Linked DNA regions of Homo sapiens. The protein of the gene in region 2 purifies or fractionates together with the protein of the main gene of each other region. This does not show direct contact. Each region holds a gene or a part of one and is shown on either strand. Other genes may lie near its edges.

What was found.
Region 1: the proteins of KLHL3 (region 2) and CEP290 purify together in Homo sapiens (affinity purification with mass spectrometry; one large-scale study listed by BioGRID and IntAct). This does not show direct contact.

The regions. Positions count from the first base shown.
Region 1 is NC_000012.12:88,079,476-88,083,088, forward strand, and holds part of CEP290 (centrosomal protein of 290 kDa), read right to left. Parts: coding exon 3,556-3,613; intron 2,902-3,555; exon of another isoform or gene 2,838-2,901; intron 921-2,837; coding exon 707-920; intron 1-706. UniProt on the Homo sapiens protein: Involved in early and late steps in cilia formation. Its association with CCP110 is required for inhibition of primary cilia formation by CCP110.
Region 2 is NC_000005.10:137,631,584-137,635,196, forward strand, and holds part of KLHL3 (kelch-like protein 3), read right to left. Parts: intron 2,583-3,613; coding exon 2,454-2,582; intron 1-2,453. UniProt on the Homo sapiens protein: Substrate-specific adapter of a BCR (BTB-CUL3-RBX1) E3 ubiquitin ligase complex that acts as a regulator of ion transport in the distal nephron.

The DNA of each region.
Region 1 (3,613 bases), on a different chromosome or scaffold from region 2:
GCATTAAATCAAGCTATTACAAAAAACAGGTATGTTTTGTTTTCAAACATCCAATTTTAGATATTTATATTACTCACTTACTACATCCTTCCATATGAAATTAATTGAATTTAGGTAGACAACAAAAGGACTAGGAAAGGCTTAAAGTTTACCCATAAATTTCATAGCTAGCACAGAAAAACACCAGCATCTTCTAAAACAATTTAAATAGATCAAATCTGAGATAAACTAAAAAAAACCCTAATAAATCAGAATACACTGACCAACTCCTTCTCACAAAAACATCTCTATGACCCCCTTTTTTCATCCCTTTTTGTCATTATCATACTTCCCTCAATCCCTCAAATTGTTCAAAATTGTTCATTTGTTAAAAATAGCCTCAGTAGCATAAAATTCCAGTAGAAAAAAAGAAAATACAATGTAATATATATTATATTTTTGTAATGTACATTAAGATTTTTCCTAACTTCATATAGATAATTCACAAATCAGATTGACGAAAACATAAAAAGATAAATTGGACTATATCTGCCCACAAAAACAGCATTGTCTAAAATACCTTGTTTAACAGCATAAGATAAAGCTCATACTTTTTATTACAACACGGAGATTTATACTACCATCTTTTATAAATTTACAAATCTTCTCTAAAAGCAATCTACCACATATTTTTCCTAAATGTTGATAATTTTCTGTTGTTACTTACTTTCTGTTGTTTCTCCTTCAAGGCTAATTGGCTCTTTAGCCGTTCTACTAGATTTCTCATTGTAGTTGTTGGAGCTCTTGAATTTGCTTCTTTTTGAGCCTGAAGTTCAGATTTTAAACACTGTGACTCCTTTTGTGACTGGTCCAGAAGATACTTTAAATCCTCTACTTCCGCTTTTACTTTTTTCACTTCATCTTCATGGTTTTCTTGAAGCCTGATGTAAATAAACATATGTGTGTGTGTGTTTTTTAATTTTTAATTTTTTTGAGACCCAGTCTCACTCTGTCACCCAGGCTGGAGTGCAGCAGCGCAATCTCGGCTGACTGCAACCTCTGCCTCCCAGATTCAAGTGATTTTTTTGCCTCAACTTCCTGAGTAGCTGGGACTACGGGCGTGCACCATCAGGCCCAGCTAATTTTTGTATTTTTAGTAGAGATGGGGTTTCACCATGTTGGCCAGGCCAGTTTGAACGCATGACCTCAGGTGATAAGCCCGCTTTGGCATCCCAAATTGCTGGGATTACAGGTGTGAGCCACCACACCTGGCCAAACATATGTAATTAATAGAGTGGTTGCTGCAATTCATACCTTGATTAATACAAATTTCATATAGAGCAAATGTTCAGTCCTAAGTATCCTTACAATCTAAATCTTGATGCAGGCATCCAAATCCAAAGAAGAATAATTCTTTATTTCATTTAACTACTCTTAGACTTAACAACACATTTTTCTTCTAGTTTCTAATATTTTTGGCAACAATCTTATCAAGTTATTTTGTGACTCTAGTCAAATATACAGAGAATGAACAAAAAGGCATTTTAAATATTATGGCTCTTGTAAAATGTGATTGCTTCCTCTATATGATAGTTTCCTAACCATACTACTAGTAACATTTTTGACTGGATAATTCTTTGTTGGTGGTGGGGCTGCCTTGTGCATGATAGGATGTTTAGCAGCATCTTTTGATTCTACCCACTGGATACCAGTAGCACCCCCGAGCCATGACAATCAAAAATGTCTCCAGACATCGCCAAATGTCCCCAAGAGGGACAATGGTGAAAAACTGATCCTCTATATTTGAGAAATACTGCCCTATATTGACATATTGAAAAGACTAATATAAATTTTCACAGAAATCACATGTATTATTAATTTGTTTATGGTTCAAATTCACTAGCATTATATCTATAACTATATATATGGAAGTGGATACTATCAAAAGATTTAGTTAATTCAATTAATCTTATTGCTTATTCAGCATTAAGTCTGTTAAACTGAATTAATATATTGTTGTGCATATGGACACTGCATCCATACTGAGATTCTGACCAATAAGAGGGAGATAGTGTTAAGACATGAACAAATGTTACTCTTTGAGGCTTCTTGCTTTTGGCAAAACTTAAGTCTAACTTTAAAGAGTCATCATCAAATTGTGAAAATATCAGGATTTACTTAAGAAATCACACAGATCCATAATCTCCTAATACATATCAAAATATGCACACAGAGAACACAAGTATAATTTTGGACTAAAATGACGTAAGGTACACAACAATAACTTCAAGTATTTCCTGTGGCAAAAAAATGTATTATATAAGGTATTTCAAAAGATTATGATTTTCTACACCCACAAATTAGATGCAAAAGCACAAGTAATTTTATACTCCAAAACATGACAGAAATTTACTAGACCAAAAATAACATCTCTTGTACAAAATTTAATAGAGTGAGGAAAAGAGACTGAAAATACACATATGCTGTTGCCAATTTTCTTTCTTTTAGAGAGTAATTTCTTAACAGTGGCAGCTCCTTAGCAAAGCAAAAATAGTGTTAATTCTGTCAGAGGCATTTGAATAAGTGAGTAAAGAATCAAAGACTCTAGCAGGGGCTTGAGAGCTGAAATGGAATTATAAGTCAAGCAGTTCAATTTTCTCATGTTTTTTCAGATAATAAAATTTAGGCCCATAGAGATAATATTATAATGATTAGAAACTACCTAACTATAAACCTATTTTGAGTTTAAAATCTACGTTCTGATAAAGTGGTTGAACAATGTTTAGAATCTCTATTATATGACAGACACTCTTATAAGTGTGTAATCAAAAGTTTTCTATCTGTATGTTATTTTACAGTTTTCAAATTACTTTCATACACGGTATAATTTGACCTTCATATAACCACCCTGAAAGGGCCAGGGTAAGTATTATTATTTCCATTTTAAAGATGATGAGGCTGGGTGCAATGGCTCAGGCCTGTAATCCCAGCACTTTGGGAGGCCGAAGTGGGCGGATCACTTGAGCTCACGAGTTCAAGACCAGCCTGGGCAACATGGAGAAACCTTGTCTCTACAAAAATACAAAAAAACTACCCAGGTGTGGTGGCACCTGCCTGTAGTGCCAGCTACTCTGCAGGCTGAGGTGGGAAGATGGTTTGAGCCTGGAAGGTCAAGGTTGCAGTGAGCTGAGATTATGTCACTGCACTCCAGCCTAGGAAATAGAGCCAGACCTTGTCTCAAAAATAAAAATAAATAAATAAGATGAAACTGAGGCTCAAAGAAGGTAAAAATGAGATTCTGGAAAAGAATTTGTATTGGCTTTTGAGTCAGACTGACTAGTTTCAAATTATGGCTTTCCCATCTACCCCCAGACATGCTATTAAGCATTCCTGAGGCCATATCCTCTCTTTAAAATGGGGAAAATGATAACATATGTAACCAGCAGTCCTGAGGATAAAAATGAGACAATATACTTAAAAGTCTTAGAACAGTGCCTGGCATAGCAAACACTTATGTTTATCTTCATTATATCACTTATCATTTGCCTATTTTTACAATACATTTCGAAGACTTACTGTAATTTGATATTTTCAAATTCTTTTACTTTTAATTCAGTGATTTCTCTTTGTCTCT
Region 2 (3,613 bases):
GCTAACTCTGGAGTCAGCATTACTAATTATATGACCTTGGGCAAATTACTCAACCACTGGCAGACCTCCTTTCTAAATCTGATAAGTGCAATTCATATTGTATCCACCTCGTAGGGCTGCAGTGAGGATTAAATGGATTGAGGCATAAAAAGTACTTGTTAGGACAGTGCCTGGCACATAGTAAGCCTTAACTTTCAAAAGATATAAACACCTTCATAGAAACATAAGGTATGATGAGGAGGAGCGTATTATCTCATCCATTCTCTAGTGATCCCCCAGGAAAGGTTAACTTATAAAGTACTGTGTCTAGCTGCAAAGGTGCTAGTAGGATTATATACAGCAAAATGAAAGGAGGAGGAGGAGGTAAAATAAAATGTTAAGTTGTTGAACCAATACCCACTCATGACTGATTAAAGAAATCACAGATTACACAAACTGGAAAAACATCCCATATTCATGGATTGGAAGAATCAATATCATTAAAATGACCATATTCCCTGAAGGAATCTACAGATTCAACACAATTCCTATCAAACTATCAACATCATTCCTCATAGAATTAGAAAAAACAATCCTAAAGTTTATACAGAACCAAAAAAGAGCCCGAATAGCCAAAGCCAATCTTAACCAAAAAGAACAAAGTCAGAAGTATCACATTACCTGACTTCAAATTATATTACAAGGCTATAGTAACTAAAACAGCATGGTGCTGGTACCAAAAATAGACACAGAGAACAATGGAACAGAATAGAGAACCCAGAAACAAAGCCACATACCTATAACAAGCTGATCTTCAAAAAAGTCGACAAAAATAAAACAATGGGGAAAAGACTCTCTATTCAATAAATGGTGTTGTATGTGGCTAGCCACATACAGAAAAATGAAACTAGACCTCTATCTCTTACCATATACAAAAATTAACTGAAGATGGATTAAAGACTTAAATATAAGACCTGAAACTATAAAAGTCCTAGAAGAAAACCTAGAAAAAACTCTTCTGGGCATTGGCCTAGGCAAACAATTTATGACTAAGATGCCAAACGGAAAGTGCAACAAAAACAAAAATAGACAAATGGGACTTAATTAAACAAACAAAAAAAGCTTCTCCACAACATAAGAAATAATCAACAAACAGTCAACCTACAGAATGGGAGAAAATATTTGCAAATTATGCCCCCCAACAAAGGATTAATGTTCAGAATATACAAGGAACTCCAACAACTCAACAAGGAAAAAACAACCCCATTAAAAAGCAGGCAAAGGATATACATACAGACATTTCTCAAAATAAGGCATGCCAGTGTGGCCAATAATCATATGAAAAAATGCTTAACATCGTAATCATCAGAAAAATGAAGATTAAAACCACAGTGAGATATCATCTTACAGATGGCTATTACTAAAAAGTCAAAAAAGGCCGGGTGCAGTGGCTCATGCCTGCAATCCCAGCACTTTGAGAGGCCGAGGCAGGTGGATCATGAGGTCAGGAGATTGAGACCATCCTGGCTAACAGGGTGAAACCCCAACTCTACTACAAATACAAAAAATTTGCCGGGCATGGTGGTGGGTGCCTGTAGTCCCAGCTACTCGGGAGGCTGAGGCAGGAGAATGGCGGAACCCGGGAGGCGGAGCTTGCAGTGAGCCGAGATAGCGCCACTGCACTCTAGCCTGGGCAACAGAGTGAGACTTCATCTCAAAAAAAAAAAAAAAAAAAAAAAAGTTTAAAAAAAAAAAGACTTTAGCATGGTTGCAGAGAAAAGGGTATGCTTATACACTGTTGTGGAAATATAAATTAATACAACCTCTATGGAAAAACAGTATGGGGATTTCTCAAAGAACTCAAAATATAACTACCATTTGACCCAGCAATCCCACTACTGGGTATCTATGCAAAGGAAAAGAAATCATTATATTAAAAAGACATGTACAGTTATTATGTTTAAAGCAGCACTACTGACTACCACAAAGTCATATAATCAATCTAAGTATCCATCAATGGCTGATTAAAGAAAATATAGTATGTATACACCATGGAATCTTATGCAACCAAAAAAAGAGTGAAATCATGTCCTTTGCAGCAACATGGATGGAGCTGGAGGCCATAATCCTATGTGAGATAACCCAGAAACAAAAAATCAAATACTGCATGTTCTCACTTATATGTACAGGCTAAATAATGGGTATACATGGACATAAAGATGAGAACAATAGACACTGGGGATTCCAAAAGGGATAAGTCTGGGAGGAGGGTGAAAGTTGAAAAATTACCCATTGGGTTCAATGGTCACTATTTGCGTGATGGGTACACTAGAAGCCCAAACTCGACCATTATGCAATATATCCATGTAACAAACCTGCACATGTACCCTCTAAATCTAAAATAAAACAAAAAAATTTAAGGACCCACTTGTGAGCAAATCAGACACAGCCAGCACCCCGAGGTTCTCCCATACCTGCGCCACTGCGGCGGGTGCTCATGTCCGCCACGTATATCCATTCATTGGTCGCTGGGTTGTACTGCTCCACAGTGCTCAGACACTGGCGGGAAGCTCCATCATAACCCCCAACAGCATATAGCTTCCCTGCAATAGACAAAGTGGCTGAGTGTGGTGCCAGGGATACTGGCATGAAACCAGAGCTCAGCTGAAACCCTATCTGCAACCAACTGGGGCACCCTTACCTCAGAATTCTGTTCCCTCTTTCTCCAGGGGACCACCAACTTACTCCTCAACCAAGCAAAGCATCCTTCACATTTCTTCACATATTCTACTTGCTCTTAAGCCATGAGCTCCTTAGAAGCAAACACTTAACGTCTTTCTAAATAAGTACCCGCAAATACCCAGCACAAAGCTATGGCCTGGCACCACTGGGGCTCAACATAATCTTGCTGATGAATTAGGTTAAATTTTCTCTAGAACAAGACACCAGCACCAGATAGATGGAAAGCTAGAAGGCCCCCAGCTATAGGCAGGCAGACCATCTTTCTGGCTAAAGGCTTGACATAGCAGATGAAGTAAATATGGAAAATTATTATTCAATGAGAACCCAAAACCTGTCTTAGCCATTGTCTCTACCCCTTCCACAACCTTGGCAGGTAGAGTGTGTGAATGGAGTGTTCTTTGTACATTGTGGGCCAGGGTGGCTGGAATTTTTCTGCAGACTACCCTGTGATCTCTGAGCCATGCACAAGAGCCCTGAGGTGCCGTCATTTACTTTTAAATTAAAATACCATTAAGCTGCTACCCAAGAGCATCATTTCTGCCTGGGGCTGGGGGCTGAGGGCTGAGAGTGAGGTTGGACACAGGAGGAAAAATTTGGCATTTGAGCTATCCCAAAGCAGAAATTCAAACATTTTGGGTTTAAAATTTAGTCTTAAAATGCAATGGGATGGTCTCTTCTGTGGGAACAGGGGGAGGAGTCACACTAGCTGTAGACTAAATAAATATCACCAAATGCAAATCTATTTAACAGGATTACTTACTCAGTAGATTTTTTGGTCACATGTGCTTTCTTGATGGACAGACACCAAGAATACTACTAGTATTTGAAAATCTGCAATTATTTTAAGTTAGAAAGATTCTCAGGCTCAAACCTATACTCTGCTACCAGAACT